Regions from separate parts of the Homo sapiens genome. Here region 2 is linked to region 1. A link means that fine-mapping ties the variant in region 1 to the expression of a gene that starts in the linked region. Tissue or cell type: whole blood. Region 1 holds a variant in brackets; the other region holds the start of a gene. All regions are shown on one strand. Distances are from middle to middle.

Region 1 (11,077 bases):
ACAGGGGTAATGGTGGCTTCAGGCTCAGCTGGATTAACTCATTTATGCCTAGTGTTCCATTGTTGGAACTCTAAGCTTGTAGGAGTTATTTATATCCTACTGCTGAAGGTCATCACCAAGGTCTCGTTTTTCACAAAAATAATTTGCAACCTCCAACATTAATGGGTTAAGGAACTCAAATAAGGTCCTCAGGACTCTGCTTCTATTCTACTTTCTATTTAGGGTTTATTTTGAAGTCAGGCTCTCCACTGACCTGATGTCTGTTGACAACAACATCCTCCTAGGTCCATCAGTCCCAGGGTAAAAAGATATCTTTTTCAAGATTTGACAACGAGTTGATAAATGTTGGAGCTGGATATTGAGTACAAGGAGGTTCATATTTATTCTCACTTCTTTTGCATAAATTTGAAATTCTTTATTTTAAATAGTTTTCTAAAAAGCAATGTTCTGTTGTAGCCCAGATGATTGGTCCTGCTGGATCACATGACTTGCCAAACCAATCACTATGGCCAGGGAGATGGCATACTCTGATTGGCCAGGCCTACATCACATAACCCATCTTGTAATTGAATACCCCACCTAACACCTTCTGATTTTAAAAATTTCTCTGGCCAGTTGCAATGGCTCACGTTTATAATCCCAGCACTTTGGGAGGCTAAATTGGGAGGATTGCTTGGGGCCAGGAGTTCAAGACCAGCCTGAGCAACATAGTGAGAGGGACTCCATTTCTACAAAAATTAAAATTTTTTAAAAATTAGCTACCAAGCACAGTGGCTCACATCTGTAATCCCAGCACTTTGGGAGGCCGAGGCAGACAGATCATGATGGTCAGGAGATCCAGACCATCCTGGCCAACATGGTGAAACCCCGTCTCTACTAAAATACAAAAAATTAGCCAGGTGTGGTGGTGCGCGCCTGCAGTCCCAGCTACCCGGGAGGCTGAGGCAGGGGAATCTCTTGAACTCCGGGGGCAGACATTGCAGTGAGCTAAGATTGCACGCCACTGCACTCCAGTCTGGTGACAGAGTGAGACTCTGTCTCAAAAAAATAAAAATAAAAAATTAGCTGGGCATAGTGGCACGTGCCTATAATCTCAGCTACTCAGGGTATTGAGGTGGGAGGATGGCTTTAGCCCAGGAAGTCAAGGCTGCAGTGAGCCATGAATGTGCCATTGCACTCCACCCTGGGAGACAGACAGCCCTATTTCTAAAAATTAAAAAATCAAAAATTTCCCAAAGAGAAAGCAGGGCAGGAGGTAGAAACCAGAAGAAGAAAGTCGAAAAAACATGCTTAAGGGACAAAACTGTAGATGTAGCTGTTGTTATATTTGAACTATTTGAATTAAAAGAACTTCCATGGCTAACACCAGCAAAATGCAATCATCAGCTGGCTCAGAGAAGACAGTATGACTCACTCCAGCAGTGAAGAATATTATATGTTTTTTTTGGTGAGAAGCAATTGCCCTAGTCCAAATGTTGTCCTTCCTCAGTAAGAATTAGATTTCCTACCTACATCCTCAATAAATTCCTCTTTGACTAGGAGACTGAGCCCAACTAGGCAGCTCATTGATCCTAAACATTGTTGATTTCAGGATCAGCCCATCATATAGGCATGAACCCATTTGAAGGAATTTCAGGACCATTTTAAATTTTCTTCTTGCAAGTAGAATTTAGAATCCTTGCCAGATATGCCCGCCCACTCCTGCCATCTGTTACTTTGATGAAAGTCAGGCCTTCCATAATGAATCTCAGAGCACCAACATGAGTGGATATAGAGGGTGTGGGGTGAAGGGAGGGGCTCAGCCTTCATAAATGATAGCACATGAGCCAGAGCCACTTCTCTGAGAGTTATTGGCTCCCCTTTCTGTCCCTAATGAGGCACTTCCAGGAGTGTTTCAGCTGTTGGACACCTATAGCTCTTTGTCTTCTCAGCAATGGCCAGTGCTTGGGTCCAGCTTTCCTTTATGACTAAGTGATACACTGGAGTTTGGCCTTATGATCTACCTACTGATAAAGATGAAAGTAGCCTTTGTCATGTAGCTCAGGTAAATTGCAACCAGCTCCATTCCAAATTCAGTCTTCACCATCTGTTCCAAAGCCCAAGAACAGCTGACATGTTTTGACAGGTGCTGCTAGCTCACAAGAAAGTGCATTTCCCTGTGTTGTGACGCCCCTCCTTCCTTCCCTACATCCTAGAGGCAGGCAGGAAAGTATTTAGCTATGCCATTTGAGGCTTCTAGATATTAGTTAAAGTTTAAAAAAAAAACTTAAAAGAGGGATAAAAACAGAAATACATCAGCTTTTCTTACCTCCAACATTTATGCTGGTTTTTCTCAGTTACATAAATAAGTTACTGTTTTATTTCTAGTAACCTATCACCTTTCCTATTTCTTCCATCCACAGTATCCTGGCAAAGCTTTCCTGAAGGTACCCTCAGCATAGCCTGGTTTAACCCTGAGTATGACACACACTGAGCTAGCTGGGGAGGCCTTTCAGTGTTTCTAGTGACTAATCTTCAGGGTTTTTTTTCTCACATCTCATAAACTTGTTTAGCTAATTTTTCAGTCTTAAGTACATAAAATCATAATTATGATAAGGTAATAATAATGAAGGGGAAACAAGAAAGACTGAATTTAATTGTTAATGAAACAATAAATTATCCAACAGAGTAAGAGAATGGAGTTACACATTTAATTTAATCCTTATTTAAATCCAAAGTATGAGGCAAAATTTAATTATTTCCTTATTCTTACTAAAACAAAGTAGTCTAGCCACCAGGAACATTCAAACTCCCTTTAAAAACATTTATTTTCACCTCATTATAAAAACATTATTTTTAAGGTTTTTTATTTTTTGTTTTATTTATTTTTATTTTTTATTTTTCTCATATGGAGTCTTTTTTTCTTTCTTTTTTTTTTTTTTTGAGATGGAGTCTCGCTCTGTCGCCCAGGCTGGAGTGCAGTGGCACAATTTCGGCTCACTGCAAGCTCCGCCTCCTGGGTTCACACCATTCTCCTGCCTCAGCCTCCCGAGTAACTGAGACCACAGGTGCCAGCCATCACACCTGGCTAATTTTTTATATTTTTTTAGTAGAGACGGGGTTTCACCATGTTAGCCAGGGTGATCTCAATCTCCTGACCTCCGCCCGCCTCGGCCTCCCAAAATGCTGGGATTACAGGTGTGAACCACTGTGCCCAGCCAATATGGAGTTGTTCTGTCGCCCAGGATGGAGTGCAGTGGCACGATCTCAGCTCACTGCAACCTCCACCTTCTGGGTTCAGGTGATCTCCTACCTCAGCCTCCCAAGTAGCTGGGATTACAGGTACGCACTACCACGCCCTGCTAATTTTTGTATTTTTAGTTAAGACGGGGTTTTGCTATGTTGATCAGGCTGGTCTCAAACTCCTGACCTCAGGTAATCCGTCTGCCTTGGCCTCCCATAGTGCTGGGATTACAGGCATCAGCCACCATGCTCAGCCTTTTTAAATGTTTAATAGAAAGCAAAAGGGAGGAAGTAATTACCTGTGTTCCCTCCAATCATTAGTGTTAACATTTTAATGAGTACACATCCAGTCTTTTTGCTGTTCACATCAATCTGTCTTTTACAAGACTGCAAGGACAGTGTAGTTAATCAGCCATGCTTATCTCTGTTTTTAAATTAGTATTTAATATTTATGCAGCTTTATAGATTTCATTATATAATGAAACTAAGTAGCTCTTCCAGTTAAAAAAAAAATCAAGGCTGAGTTCTGTTTTGTACACTGAAGAGAAATGTAAGACTTGACATTGACCCTTTAGTACAGAAGAAACATGTCACATGTCTAGTTCCAAATCAAAAGAATAAGAAGTTGCAAAATAAAATTTAATTATCAGATGTTTGTATTTTTCTCATTAAATATAAAATATAATCTCATTATAAAATTATAGTATAATTATCTGGTACAGTAGTCCAAATTAACATAAGATCACTTAACCATTTCCCAATTGTTGGATATTTACTGTTGTTACAAGTGTTTCACATGGATATATCACATGCCATAAAAAATATCTACACCTACTCTTTGTTGGTTGTCTTCTTTTTGAATTATATCCCTGGAGTAAATTCCCAGAAGTGTCACTTATGTAGTCAAAGGATGTAATCATTTTTACATTTTACATATTTCAAAAATGAAATACTACCCAAAAAATGTGTGCTTTGCAACATCAGCTGTGTAATAAGAATGTGGTAGGTTTATCATTGAATTTCTATGCCAAATCAAGTATTCCACTGGGCTTCCTTCGTTTAAGAAAAGGGATTAAAGTAACAATACTTTCCCCACATCAAGGATAACACTCCAAAACAAGGATTATACTGCAGACAACTACCCTTTGTGGTTTTATTCTAGTCTTCAAACTATATCATTCTCTGAAGTCAAGGATTACTATACGAACTACAAGTGATATTGGATATCTATCTGATATTTTAAGGTATGCTTCAAATTTAATGCAGGGATTAAAAGAATGGGACTTGGACTCAATTTAGTTCTTTACAGGAAACCAGCATTTTTGGCTCCAGAATCCCTCTAATTTAAACATCCTTAGATTTACTGTTGTTGATGTAAAGATTTAATAAAATGAGAATTGGAATTCTCCATTAATTTCTTTTTATGTTTATTCCCAAGGTTTGCAAGTGACAGCATAAAGACGGAACACAACAAATCCTTCCTGAAGTGAATTAGGAAACTCCAAGGAGTAATTTAAGAACCTTCACCAAGATACAATGTATACTGTGGTACAATGACAGCCATTGTTTCATATGTTTGATTTTTATTGCACATGGTTTTCCCAACATGTGGAACAATAAATATCCATGCCAATGGACAGGAC[T/C]GTACCTTAGCAAGTTGCTCCCTCTCCAGGGAGCGCATAGATACAGCAGAGCTCACAGTGAGTCAGAAAGTCTCCACTTTCTGAACATAGCTCTATAACAATGATTGTCAAACTTTTCTAACTGGAGCTCAGAGTAAGAAATAAAGATTACATCACAATCCAATATCTGTGGAATTCATTGTGTATGTTTATGTATTTGTGTGTAGGTGTGTATGTGTGTGTGTGATACATACATACATCAAGTATCACAAGACATTGACCTTATATATTATGCACTGTGATGTTTTTCCGTCTTTAATTATAAAAAACATATTGATCACAACCACAATTTGGAAAATGTTGCTCCATACCATCCCATACCAACACTCACCACCTGCAAATAATAGCATTACTAGGAGCTGCAGTCACAATGAATAAATCAACAATTCGCTACAAGATCTAGGATTATTTGTGTATTTTGTTGAGTGTGTGTGTGTGTGTGTGTGTGTGTGTGTGTGTGTGTTGGCGTGTATCTAATACCATTGTATCTCATTGTTGAGACTTTGTTACAAATAGGGTTTCTGGTTTCTTTCTCCCCCCTCGTGGTTCATTTTGTTTTTGTCAAACCAGTGGTCTAAAATCACAGAAATAAGCAATTACTTCAATCATGTGGAATCCAGGGGACCTATCTTTGGAAAGCACAGAAGGAGATCTGAATTGTGTGATCTCTTGAGGCTGCTTTCAATGCTGGAATTTAAATTATGTACTGAACAATCTTTTGCTTATTAATAAAAAGATTACACACAACCATCTCAATCTTTTTTTTATATATACTTTAAGTTCTAGGGTACATGTGTACCATGTGCAGGTTTGATACATAGTTATGCATGTGCCATGTTGGTTTGCTGCACCCATCAACTCATCATTTGCATTAGGTATTTCTCCTAATGCTATCCCTCCCCCAGCCCCCCACCCCCGACAGACCCTGGTGTGTGATGTTCCCAGCCCTGTATCCAAGTGATCTCATTGTTCAATTCCCACCTATGAGTGAGAACATTCAATGTTTGGTTTTCTATCTTTGTGATAGTTTGCTGAGAATGATGGCTTCCAGCTTCATCCATGTCCCTGTAAACGACATGAACTCATCCTTTTTTATGGCTGCATAGTATTCCATTGTGTATATGTGCCACATTTTCTTAATCCAGTCTATCATTGATGGACATTTGGGTTGGTTCCAAGTCTTTACTATTGTGAATAGTGCCGCAATAAGCATAAATGTGCATGTGTCTTTATAGTAGCATGATTTATAATCCTTTGGGTATATACCCAGTAATGGGATCACTGGGTCAAATGGTATTTCTAGTTCTAGATCCTTGAGGAATCACCACACTGTCTTCCACAATGGTTGAACTAGTTTACAGTCCCACCAACAGTGTAAAAGTGTTCCTATTTCTCCATATCCTATCCAGCATCTATTGTTTCCTGACTTTTTAATGATCACCATTCTAACTGGTGTGAGATGGTATCTCATTGTGGTTTTGATTTGCATTTCTCTGATGACCAGTGATAATGAGCATTTTTTCATGTGTCTGTTGGCTACATAGAAGTCTTCTTTTGAGAAGTGTCTGTTCATATCCTTTGCCCACTTTTTGATGGGGTTGTTTGTTTTTCTCTTGTAAATTTGTTTGAGTTCTTTGTAGATTCTGGATATTAGCCCTTTGTCAGATGAGTAGATCGCAAAAATTTTCTCCCATTCTGTAGGTTGCCTGTTCACTCTGATGGTAGTTTCTTTTGCCATGCAGAAGCTCTTTAGTTTAATTAGATCCCATTTGTCTATTTTGGCTTTTGTTGCCATTGCTTTTGATGTTTTAGTCATGAAGTCCTTGCCCATGCTTATGTCCTGAATGGTATTGCCTAGGTTTTCTTCTAGGATTTTTGTGGTTTTAGGTCTAACATTTAAGTCTTTAATCCATCTTGAATTAATTTTTGTATAAGGTGTAAGGAAGAGGTCTAGTTTCAGCATTCTACATATGGCTAGCCACTTTTCCTGGCACCATTTATAAATGGGGAATCCTTTCCCCATTGCTTGTTTTTGTCAGGTTTGTCAAAGATCAGATGGTTGTAGATGTGTGGTGTTATTTCTGAGGCCTCTGTTTTGTTCCATTGGTCTATATATCTGTTTTGGTACCAGTACCATGCTGTTTTGGTTACTGTAGCTTTGTAGAATAGTTTGAAGTCAGGTGGCGTGCTGCCTCCAGCTTTTTTCCTTTTGCTTAGGATTGTCTTGGCGATGCGGGCTCTTTTTTGGTTCCATATGAACTTTAAAGTAGTTTTTTCCAATTCTGTGAAGAAAGTCATTGGTAGCTTAATGGGGATAGCATTGAATCTATAAATTATCTTGGGCAGTATGGCCATTTTCACTATATTGATTCTTCCTATCAATGAGCATGGAATGTTCTTCCATTTGTTTGTGTCCTCTTTTATTTTGTTAAGCAGTGGTTTGTAGTTCTCCTTGAAGAGGTCCTTCACATCCCTTGTAAGTTGGATTCCTAGGTATTTTATTCTCTTTGAAGCAAGTGTGAATGGGAGTTCACACATGATTTGGCTCTCTGTTTGTCATTGGTGTATAGGAATGCTTGTGATTTTTGCACATTGATTTTATATCCTGAGACTTTGCTGAAGTTTCTTAACAGCTTAAGGAGATTTTGGGCTGAGACAATGGGGTTTTCTAAGTATACAGTCATGTCATCTGCAAACAGGGACAATTTGACTTCCTCGTTTTCTAATCGAATATCCTTTATTTCTTTCTCTTGCCTGATTGCCCTGGCCAGAACTTCCAACACTATGTTGAATAGGAGTGGTGAGAGAGGGCATCCTTGTCTTGTGCAGGTATTCAAAGGGAATGCTTCCAGTTTTTGCCCATTCAGTATGATATTGGCTGTGGGTTTGTCATAAATAGCTCTTATTATGTTGAGATACATTCCATCAATACCTAGTTTATTGAGAGTTTTTAGCATGAAGGGCTGTTGAATTTTGTCGAAGGCCTTTTCTGCATCTATTGAGATAATCATGTGGTTTTTGTCATTGGTTGTGTTTATGTGATGGATTACGTTCATTGATTTGCATATGTTGAACCAGCCTTGCATCCCAGGGATGTAGCCAACTTTGAGACAGTCTCACTCTGTTGCCAGGCTGGAGTGCAGTGGTGCGATCTCGGTCACCGCAGTCTCGGCCTCCCGGGTTCAAGCGATTCTCCCACCTCAGCCTCCTGAGTAGCTGGAACTACAGGCGCATGCTACCATGCCCAGTTAGTCTTTGCATTTTTGGTAGAGACAGGGTTTCAGGATAGTCTTGATCTCCTGACCTAGTGATCCGCCAGCCTTGGCCTCCCAAAGTGCTGGAATTAGAGGCGTGAGCCACCATGCCCAGCCAACTTTCTCAATCTTTAAAATATATTGTTACATTAACCATTCTCTACAGACTCAGTCAACTCTCATTATTTCTTTATTTCTAACTAGCTTGCACTCACTTGGTGATGACCAGACAGTTCTTTGGATCCCACACACTACAAAAAATACAAACAAAAACAAAACCCAGGCTCAAATTATAGTTCATCCACTCAGTAGCTATGAGTTCAATCAAGCTATTTAAAGTTTTGGTTTTCTCTTTTTAAGATAAGGGATATCAACAGTATTTAGAATGGGTGTAGGGTAGAATAAGGATAAAGTTCAAATATTTTAATGTGGCATCCAAGGCTTTCTCTGATCTGGCTTCTGTGTACCTCTCTATCCTCATTTCCCATCAGAATTGGGTCATATAGTCACTTCTCCCTGCAAGGGAGGCTGGGAAGATGTCATGATAGTTTCAGACCAATTGTGACTCTGCCTTGGGATGTTGCCACTGATCAACATCAAGGATCTTTTAGTGAGGAAATAGGAAAGCCACTGAAGATGCCTACCACGGCCTTTTTCTGCATAACTTCCCTGGCCATGATTTTATCAAGTTTGGGTTGCTGTAATTTGTGTTATTAATACATTAGGAGAATTTTGTTTTATTTTATTAGGATAAAAATAGAGTATAGATATGATTATTAAACTTCACTTCTAAGAATTTCTGAGATGCCCTCTTCTCCCCCTTCCCACTGCAGAGGCACGGCCCTGCTAATTGAGAATCATCAGTTTTCTCCCCATTTCAGCATATGAAGGTCAGAGAAAATATATCTTGCGAGAAAAAAATGCATCAAAAAGGAAAACATTCCAGTAATTTTGGGAAGAAATAAGTATATTTTTGCTCACTAGTATCAGTGAGAAATAAATAGGAATTTGAAATAAGAATACCAGTGCTTCATTTCTGTATGCACTGATTCACATTACAGTTACTCTTTATTACAGGAGTTAATGGTGGTACTGTTATCTATTTAGAAAGATACAATACATATTTGACAAGGAGCACATGTGCTGAAGTCTTCACTTTCTGTGCATAAATAACCCCAGTCCCTTTAAGATGAGTTTGCTGTAGGAAGGCTTCATTGTGTTTAGTATTAAATTAAACATGAGTTCGATTTCAAAGGTTTGAAAGATGCACAGACCATTACACTAAAGGATGAGATTCAAGCCAAATGGTTTATCTTTTAAGTATATGCTTGTGATATATGACAGTCACAAAATGTTGAGGTATTAGTCCAACACTATATCTTAGTATTGAAATTGAAACTAAAGCTGTCCAACACCATGCAACTACCTGGTGACAGGACAAGTCCACAATCCTGACATCATACAAGCATGCACACATACATTTTTCATTTTAGACAAAGTGCCGAGACCAGCTCGGTCAGGGAGACCCTAACCCAGCGGTGCTAGAGGAATTAAAGACACACATATAGAAATATAGAGGTGTGCAGTGGGAAATCAGAGGTCTCACAGCCTTCAGAGCTGAGAGCCACGAACAGGAATTTACCCACGTATTTATTAACAGCAAGCCAGTCATCAGCATTGTTCATATAGATATTAAATTAACTAAAAGTATCCCTTATGGGAAACAAAGGGATGGGCCGAATTAAAGGAATAGGTTGGGCTAGTTAACTGCAGCAGGAGCATGTCCTTAAGGCACAGATCGCTCATGCTATTGTTTGTGGCTTAAGAATGCCTTTAAGCGGTTTTCTGCCCTGGGTGGGCCAGGTGTTCCTTGTCCTCATTCCAGTAAACCCACAACCTTCCAGTGTGCGCTTTATGGCCATCGTGAACATGTCACGGTGCTGCAGAGATTTTGTTTATGGCCAGTTTTGGGGCCAGTTTATGGCCAGATTTCAGGGGACTTGTTCCCAACACAAAGAATGGCAGAAAAATAGCCTGCTAGAATACATCATCTCTCTTTCCCTATTTTAAGGGAGCAAATCAAGGAGCCTGGAAAGGCAAGAGCTCTGTCAGGGCAAAATGAAGCTTTCTGTTCCACACTTTTGGAGCCTAGTCAAGGATGCAAGCCATTTCATCAGGTTATCCATGGGGTAAGAAACAGTGGTGAGGTCCTGGAGCTCCATGCCACCATCTGGCTGTGTTGACCTGTGGTTTGTGGCTCTAGCTGTTCTTTCAATATGCCATCAATGGTGGGGAGTTCAGAAAAAGGCTGGCTGCAGTGGCTCTTGCCTGTAATCCCAGCACTTGGGAGGCTGAGGTAGGTGGATCACCTGAGGTCAGGAGTTCAAGACCAGCCTGCCCAATATGGTGAAACTCCATCTCTACTAAATATACAAAAATTAGCCAGGCTTGACAGCATGTACCTGTAGTCCCAGCTACTCAGGAGGCTGAGACAGGAGAATCTCAGAACCTGGGAGGCAGAGGTTGCAGTGAGCAGAGATCGTGCCACTGCACTCCAGCCTGGGCAACAGAGTGAGATACCGTCTCAAAAAAAAAAAAAAAAAAACAGCTATGGTAGAAGTGAGCTATGTGACTTCTTAGGCCAGGTCATAAAAGGTGATATAGCTGAAAATATATGGACAAGGCAAAAAAGGCATTACTCTCCAGTGCCCACACAGAAATAGATGAAAATTGCAATGCAGCTTTTGGGTCCTAATCAGGGTAGCATGACATGCAGATAAGAGAACATCAAAAGCAAAACTTCTTACCACAGTGAGCATATCTGATGCATTCATGCTCCTGAGTCCAGAAATGCAAAAGTAGAGACAAAGTAATACGTTCCACTTCCAGATCCTAGAAAAGTTAGGTTGTCTTCTTCAA
Region 2 (9,115 bases), 26 kb before region 1:
AGTCTGTCTCAAAAAAAAAAAAAAAAAAAAAAGTGCAGACTTCAAAGCCAGACTACCTGGGTTTTAATACTGCCTGCTACATCCCCCACTCTAACTGTTGACTTTAGACAAGTTAAATAACATTTCTGCGCATCTTTATTTCCCCATCTGTGCAACAGGAACAATATAATGGTACTGATCTCATAAGATTGTTGAGAGCAGCAAATGTGTTAACACGTGTAAAGTGACTATACCATTGCCTAACACACAGTAAATGTGGGACAGTACTACGATAGGACATTTCTGTTTTTGTTTTTTGTACTCTGTTGAGACGGGGTCTTGCTATGTTGCCCAGGCTAGTCTCAAACTCCTAGCCTCAAGCAATCCTCCCACCTCAGCCTCATAAAGTGCTAGGATTACAGGCATGGCCCACTGCTCCTGGCCATCGCTTTTTTTTTTTCTTCAACTAAGCTAGCCCACACAAAGTTTCAACTCTGATTGGCAGTAATGTTTCTCACTGTAAATTACTAAACTGGCAAACCCATTTCTATGGTAACTTTGTGTCTGGATCTCATTTGTAAATTAATGTTGATTCAAAATTCCCTTTATCCTGAATCAAGGACCAGATAAAACAAATTAAAATAAAATAAAATGCAAAGTTCCCTCTAAACACCTGTCATGTTTAACCATAAGCTTTCTGATGTGAAGGAGAAAGGAGGTTCCTGGGAATGTATCCACAATTAGTAACAGGATGACCCTTAAACCCCCAAGTGTGAATGAACCCACATGTATACATTACTGTGTACACACACACACACACACACACACACACACACACACCTGTCAATGTCCCTCCATTTGCAATATAGACAGCATTTAATACGCATGAAGAGATTTTTAAAAAGGGCATTCTTTAACGTATTTCAACTGGCAGCAGGTGATCAGAAAAAAATAAGATAAATAAAATATTGTTTAGCTATCAAAGAACAACTCTGCACTGTTAGATACTTAAGGTCCTGATTTGCACCTGAGTTTAGAAAGCTACCTCATACATATGCACTTAAAATGGAAATTTCTCATCAGATTCCACATCTAATGCAATGCAGAACCCAACTCTAGCTGTGCCCCATCTTTGCCCAGGGCAGAGCCAGTCTCAGCAACTTCCTTCACACTCAGCCCACCAAGATGTCAGTCCTCAGTGAAGCACTATTCCACATACGTACGTACATGATTATCAAATAAAGGGACTTCATACTCCAACTGCAGGAACGCAAAGAAACAAAACTAGATAAGTATGAAAGCTATAGAGTTTAGGAAAATCAAGGAAAAAAGTAATCACTGAAACTCATCTCTTGCAAAGAAAGTTACTTCAAAATTTGACGTAAATGGATTAAATTTCAGCATTTCGCTATACCGAAATTACACTATGGGAAGAAAAAACCCAAGAATACATCGGAGCCATTTATCTTCCATTTCCTGTATTTCCCTTAATTACCTACCCAAATGAATGCACGTAAGAGTTGTTAAAGTATTGAAATACGTCAGTCCTTTCTAATTACCTACCCAAATGAATGAGCGGAACAGTATGTTACAACTTTTAATTAAAATACGTCAGTTTCTTTTACAATTATCTTATTTCTGCATATCACAGAAAATATTCTAAGAACAGAGCAAAAATGAACAAGGACAATCCGCCCAGAAAACTGCTTTGAGGAATTTAGTAATCTCAGCCCTCTCAGGTTTAGCACGCCAACGTCTTTGGGAGAGCAAAGGCAAAGGAGATGATAAAATGACACTTCCAAATAGCAACAGCTGAGATCACTGCCGCATCCTAGATTCTTTCCACCAGGAGCGCGAGTATAGGGTTTTTTTCTAAACGCTCTTCCCAAGATCCCGAGGTCAATTTCAAACGCTGCTCCACGCTTAAGTCCCGAGGGAGGCTCGCTCGCCCACCCCACCCTGCAGGGATTGCACTTCCCGTTCGCTCTGGCCGGTCAGGAACCCTAACTTGACAGTGACAAACACTGAGAAAAGAGGAAGTGGCTAAAGATCATTTCATGACATTTTTTAAAGGGAGATCAATGGCCCTGTCTTTCCGGAAAACTTCCATGGGACGTTGCCATCACACCCTCTGAAAGTTTCAGCGAATGACAACGTAGCAAAAGTGAGGGCTACTCCCCTTTAAATATATATATATATATTAATCCTCGAAATCCTCTTGCTATCAAAATCGATCCCTCCTCCGTAACAGCGAACGCAAAACTAAGAGCGCCCATCCCGGTGGGGCCGATCTCGGAAGCCAGGCTCGGGGCCGGGTGCGCGCCGGGTCCTCCCTGCCAAGCTGCAGAGGAGGCGCCGGCACCGCGGCGGTCGCAGGACCTGGCAAGCGCCTACCTTACCTCCCTCACCTGGTTTGACTGGTTTGGGTGGCGGCTTCGACATCTCGCTTCCTGGAGCTGCAAATCCTAAAGACCCCGCCGAAAAGCCCACCGCTTGCCCGCCACCTGGCACTCCGGGCACCCCAGTTCTTTTTGTCTGGCTTACAACCGTGCGCCTCCTAGGACCGGCGCCCACCCTTGGCTGCGGGAAGAGCGGACGCAGGCAGAGCGGCTCCGCCGAGTGCTCCGCCCCGCCCCGCGGCCGCCGGAGCAGTCCAGAGCGCGCGCCGGGCCGACGAGGAAGTGGACCCCGCCTAGCCGAGCGCTAATTGGCTCCCGGGCTGGCAGCTTCGCCGCAGCAGGAGCGCGGGCGGCGCGCACGGCGGCGGAACCAGCCGGAGCCGAGCGAGGGCGAAGCGGGCGTGCGCCAGTGCAGTGCCGCGGGCCGCGCGCGCTCCCGATAGGGAAGGGCCGGAGCTGCGCAGGGGCGCGCGGAAGAGGCCAAGCTAGCCGGAGCCCCGCCCCGCCCCGCCCCGCCCCAACGGGGGCTGGAACCCGGCGCCGAGAGTAGAGAAAAGGGGCCTCTGGTGACCGCCCCTACCTGGCATCCCTCTAACCCAGGAGGAGCGTGGGGAAAGGGGCTGTGGGCCTCTCGGGGAGCGAGCTGCGGGTAGCGGCGCACTGGGTACAGGCGCGCGCTTGGCTGTCGCCTCTGCCGCTGTGTTTGGGAGGACTCGAACTGGCGCCAGGTGAGTGCGTACCTGCTCGCCCCTGCCGCGCCGCGCCGCCTTGCTGGGGCCTGGAGGTGTTTCCAGAGGGTTTCTGTGCTGGAGCCCGGGACTTGGTTGCGCCCTGAAAGCCTTGCCTGGACTCTTGCCACCCTCACAGAGCTGATAGGTGGCCTGCCGAGGAGGACGTGTACTCATGGTGGCGTGGTGCTCTAGCGCCCCGGAATAATCCTGAAAATGGGAACGCTGCCTCCAAGAGACCGCGCAGCCTGGAGAAGTCGCCAGGGACAGGATCAGGACTTGATCCTCGCGGATCGATATGGTCTCATTCCTCTAGCGTTGGGGTGATGACCTACTGCCCGCCTGCTGCCTGTTACTGTAAGGCCTGCTAAGAATTTTTTTTTTTTTTACTTTTTTTAATGACTGAAAAGAAATAAAAAGAAATATAATACTTTGTGACACGTGAAAATTACATGAAATTACGATTTCAGTGTCCGTAAAATTTTACTGGAACACGGTCACGCTCATTTGCATCTGTGTTTTCTGTGGCCGCTTTCGCATTACCCAGCAGGGTTGAGTAGCAGCTGGCAAAGCCCAAAGCATTTCCTGTCTGGCACTTTACAGAAAAAGTTTTCCTACCCCTGATCTATCGGATTGAATCTTCGGTGGGAGGAAAGAACTGGAGCACACAAGGAAGCCAATGGCATAAGTTCAAAATAACAGTCAATATTGTAAATTAATTGTATATTTGGGGAAAGAAAAAACTGTTTACCTAAGAACCTACATAAATGAAACCAATGGGGGAGGGGCATGAATTGCGTTTTCAAAAACCCCAGCCCTTCACGTCTGTAATCCCAGCACTTTGGGAGGGCAAGGCGGGTGGATCACGAGGTCAAGAGATCAAGACCATCTTGGCCAACCTGGTGAAACCCGATCTCTACTAAAACTGCAAAAAATTAGCCGGGCGTGGTGGCAGACGCCTGTAGTCCCAGCTACTCGGGAGGCTGGGGCAGGAGAATCACTTGAACCCAGAAGGCGGAGGTTGCAGTAAGCCGAGATTGCGCCACTGCACTCCAGCCTGGCAACAGAGCGAGACTCTGTCTTAAAAAAAAAAAAAAAACCCAGCCTTGAGGGATTTGTTTACCAAAAGGGAGCAAAGTTTAAACAATAGTAGGAAAAGACTGCCCTATCTCCTGGAAGAAGAGAATCAAAATAGCTGTTGGATAGAATACAGAGTAAGAAGTCCTGGAAACATTTTTCTCTTTTTAAAATATCAGACTGTCCTGTAGATACATTTGAAGAGCACATTTAGCTTTGTCAGCTGTCTTTCAGATCATTTGCGTTAGAGAGCTGCGTTAGAGAGTTCGTACAATCTGCTGATTCTGCACATGCCACTTCTGACCATTCTGCAGTTTAGAATCCAAAAGGCAAGTGTTTAGTAGTGAAATGAATTAAGCATAATAAACACACCTGAATTATTTTAAAAAACCCAACATTTTACTTAGGGTTAAAAAAAAGTGTAAAAAATAAAATTAGTCATTTCAGGTTTGCTCTTGGCTATCCTAGTTTGTTCTCCTGCTATGCAAAAGCTCTCCGCTGTTGAGGAAAGCCTTGCACGCACTGGGAAAATAAACTACACAGATATTCCATGAGATTGAAGGTGGTGTGGATTCTAGTGATAGACGTGCCCTGAAATGATGACTCTTTGGACACATCACATGATTTACAGTTTGTACGAAGCTTGCATTTGCTTCATGAAGCCTGGCAACTCAATTGCGAGCTTTTTAAATTTGATTTTTTGTTTTGTTTTTGGTTTTATGGGAGGCAGTTTTTGGGTTGTTTTTTGCCTGTTTGTTTTGGTTTTTTTCAAGATAGGGTCTCGCTGTGTCACCAAGGCTGCAATGCAGTGGCACAGTCATGGCTCACTGCAGCCTTGGTGATTTTTTTTATAGGGGCAACAGGCAATGAAATAGTAGAATGTGATGTGGAGGTGGACAGTGCCAGGCCTGAACTTGGAGCTCCCCTAAAGCTGCCCTGTGCATCCACACTGTTTTTGAAATAAATGCCTTCAGGGATTGCTAGGCCCACCCCCCACCCCGCCCTAGTCACTTAGCCCAGTTGCCTCTCTTGTCTCTGCATGTTCCAGTTACCCACCCTTCCCATCACATTGTCACTTGCTCATAGCTGATAGGGTATGCCCAGCATTTACCCAAACACTGGCTTGGACAGGCCCAGACTGCTAACTAATGTAGAACTGGGAGTTCCTGTTTTGGTTAAAAAAAAAAAAAAAAAAAAAAAAAAACTTACATTTGACTGTATCTGAGAGATTTTATAAGTAGGTTTTTTATGCCATCTTACTCCTGGTTCCTGAATGCAAGTAACCCCCTCAAGCCTATTTCCCATGCCACAACCATGCTCACTTGTTATTTACATGCCATGTAATTGATGCAATGGTCACACGTGTAACCACAGATGTGGCAGTTTAGGACGGGGACCAGTAGTCCTTTCCATTCTGTGTGCACAGCAAATAGATGCCCCATCAATAATACATCAGTAAGAATGACATCAATTATACATCAGAGCCTGACAATTAAGCTAGCACATACCTAACACCCTTTCTTTGCTGTTAGTAATAAAGTGCTTTTTAGCAGCTTGGAGTGATAGAAAGAAGTCAGCTCAATTGGTTTAGTTTAATATCTGGCTTTTCCACTTACTGTCTGTGTGACCTTAGGCAAATTGCTCTATTGTCTGAGCCAGTTTCCACTTATGCAAAATGAAGGGGTAGACCAAGTAATCGCTAAAGCTATACTTCTCCAAGTTTGAGAATTTATGCTTCAGCGAGCTATCCAAAAATAATGGGGGCAAGGAATGACAAGGTTTTATGAATTTTTATTTTATTTGGTAAAGTGAGGATATCACTCTACTAACATCTTCTGACAACATAGTTTTGTAAGAGAAAGAACATTTATCACCACAAAAGTGAGATAAAGAGCAGCCTCTCCCTTCCCAAAAAAAGGCTAATTGGCAGCATTGAACCGACATACCAAAAAAATAAGAATAGGGTAAAATAAAATTCAAAAGCAGAAAAATTACAACATAAAAATGTATTTTACAATATTCATTGTATGCAGTCATTCCCTCGATACATCTTGTAAATTTGGATGGAGATGTGTATTCAACAACATAACTCTGGATGAAACTTAAATATGCAACTTGTCTGCTATTTTATTTTATTTTTTAAGACAGGGCCTCACTCTGCCACCCAGGCTGGAGTGCAGCGGCTCAATCTCCACTCACTGCTACCCCCACCTTGTAGGCTCAAGCAATCCTCCCACCTCAGCCTCCGAAGTAGCTGGGACTACAGGAGCATGCCACCATGCCTGGATAATCTTTTGTATTTTTGGTAGAGGTAGCGTTTTGCCATGTTGCCCAGGCTGGTCTCAACCTCCTGAGCTCAAGCAATCCGCCTGCCTTGGCCTCCCAAAGTGCTGGGATTATAGGCATGAGCCACAGTGCCCTGCTGCTATTTTATCACAGTCATTATTGATTCTTGTCTCACATAGACTTGTTAATGGAAGTGGACCCCAGTCTTAAGCAATTGTACTCAATGTGGGATATTTAGATAAGCCAAGAAGTCAGACAACAATAGCCCTCTTCCCACCAGGCTTTTTTCTGCATAACCCCTCCCCAGGGAGAGTGTGGACACAGATCATAGAAACTGGAGCATTGCTGGGAGCCTCCAGCTTGGCAGGCAGCCGCTTGCCCCTGGCTACACGGCCTAGGTCCCTGGCAACCCCCCTGAGCAGATAGGAAGGAAGAAGAGTGGCCTTCAGGGATGACCTTCAGGAGCCACTATTCTAAGATTCCCTCCAGCTGTGCTTCACCTTTTCACTTAGTGAGAAAAATGGCCCATTGTAATAACCAAGGACTACTTTAGTGAACGTTAGGGAGGCATGTATGAAACTGCCCTCCATCCCCTAAACCAAAAATCCACAAAACAGTGGCCGGTGGCTTAACTTGGCCCTCTGCCTGAACATTTGCAGTTTCATGTAGAAAGCACAACAGAAATCCAATTAAGAGAAATGATAGCCCAATAAAAGGGAATTTCATTCTTGTCATTAGTAGACCTGTTAAAAAAATTATGATTATATGTTGAATTTCATCAAAAAAAATTGTGAAAATGTTTTTTCTCTTGTTATATAAGTCCATACATAACAACCTAGATTTTGCCTCTTGGCCCACATAGTGTCAAATATTTACTGTCTGGCCTGTTTCCAAAAAAAATGTACCTAGCCAGGCCCAAGACCTAGGCTTTTGGGTGAAGAAATAGTGTCTTTAAACGGCATTAGCTTCATTTTGCCTCTGGCCAGCAGTAACTTTCTTCTTGTCTCATAAGGGCAGTATCTTTAAACGGCATTAGCTTCTTTTTGCCTCTGGTCAGCAGTGACTTTTTCCTTGTCTCATGAGGGGAGAAAGAGGCCAGCCCACAGGGGTCCCTCCCTCACTGATAATGAGTCATACCCAGGCGACTGAATCGTGAAGGTGGAAGGCAACCTGGCTAAGGAGAGGATGAAACTTCATATACCACGCTGTGGCCTAGCAGTTCTTCCACGCCCAGAAAACAGACGTTCAAGGGGGAGTGCTCCGGCAGGTCACCTGACGTTGAACTGTTTGACAGTCCTGAGCACACCCCAGTGGTTGGCACTCAGTGGTAGCAGGGGAAGCCAGTGCGGCGGGAATGTGGATAATGCGGGGCTGGGCTGAAAGGTCACTGTCATCCTCCCCTCTCAGCTGGTGCTCCTAATTTAGGATTCTTTTATCTCCCTAGACATCTAAATGAAATGCATTTGATTTGTTTGTTTGTTTTTTTACTTTTAGGAAATATTAGGAAGCTGTGATTTTCAAAGCTAATTATGAAAACATTTATCATTGGAATCAGTGGGTGAGTAATTTTGCTACAAACAGCTCTTTAAGATACTGAGGATGTCCAAATGGTGTTTCTGTGTGGATGGAGTGGGGGACGGAGAAGCAGTGAGGATTCCAGAGTCCTGGGGAAGAGCAGACCACTGTGGAATATCAGTGGAGCACTGGCTTCATAAATGCCAACAAGAGATGGAAGAGTTTTCTATAAACAGAGAAACAGAAGAGTCAGTCAACCACATTTACCCACTTTCCCATTTATTTTGTGGAGCTAACACCAGAGACAAGGTCTGATTGGGCACTGCTTTCATTCAGGATGATTTATCATTCCCCATATCATTCTCCTTCATCACGATGGAGGAGAAAACTTAGTTTCTTTCCAGCTGTGCCCAGCTTCAGACATTTGGTATACAGAACACCTTCACCTCCATTCCTTTCCCCCATGTTTTGGGTGGCCTTATGTCCCATGTTGCCCAAGCTAATCCTTGTGGCCCTGGATGCACCTCTCTTTCTCTCAAACATGTTCTAAATTATATGGTCATCCTACCTGTGGTGCCATAGGCAGGCATGCAAATAAAACATCAACATCAACTGAAAATGACATTATTTGTTTTGCTACCATATTATGTTCACCTTTACTCTAAGTATATTCACATTGTTTGTGACCCAATTAATAAAATATCTGAGACTACTTTGTTTGTAATTTTGGGGAAATCATTGTGTTATGGTATTACATTACCATAGTAAGTCATCAATCAGAAGTAAAATTGAGTGAACTAAATGTTAGAACTCTGCTTTGCCTCCCATCTAACCAGAAGAAAAGTTCAGTTTTTCTCTGCAGTACTTCTCTTGTGTTTCTCTTCCTTCTCACCCTCACTGCCACCATCCTGATACAGGCTGTCATTCCCTAGTCCCCATCTTTCCCTTCTAATCTTTCCTACACACCTCTATCAGTTTAATCTTCATACAGAACATTTTGATTATCTGCCTGATGAATGATATTCAGTGGTTCCGAGTTATTGAGAATTAAATCTGAATATCATGATGTATGAAGGCCATCTGTAAGTAATAAAGGAAATGTATTAGCCTCAGGGGTAGCAGGCTGCGGGA

What was found. PIP is the estimated chance that this variant, and not a neighbour inherited with it, causes the effect.
Region 2: NMRK1 starts here. The variant in region 1 is fine-mapped to the expression of NMRK1 in whole blood (INTERVAL, PIP above 0.99).

What each region holds. Positions count from the first base shown.
Region 1 is chr9:75,055,151-75,066,227 of GRCh38, reverse strand. NMRK1 (nicotinamide riboside kinase 1) reads left to right here. Exons shown (of 9, transcript NM_017881.3): 9 at 4,661-5,651. The coding sequence ends at 4,680. Among named protein-coding and RNA genes, the nearest start is that of NMRK1, 27 kb to the left of the region's middle. The variant T/C (reference allele first, on the strand shown) is at 4,866.
Region 2 is chr9:75,081,999-75,091,113 of GRCh38, reverse strand. NMRK1 (nicotinamide riboside kinase 1) reads left to right here and starts at 2,959. Exons shown (of 9, transcript NM_017881.3): 1 at 2,959-3,106; 2 at 7,964-8,027. The coding sequence starts at 7,999. OSTF1 (osteoclast stimulating factor 1) reads right to left here and starts at 2,600. Exons shown (of 10, transcript NM_012383.5): 1 at 2,388-2,600. The coding sequence starts at 2,421. RefSeq lists silencers at 2,210-2,299, 2,490-3,089.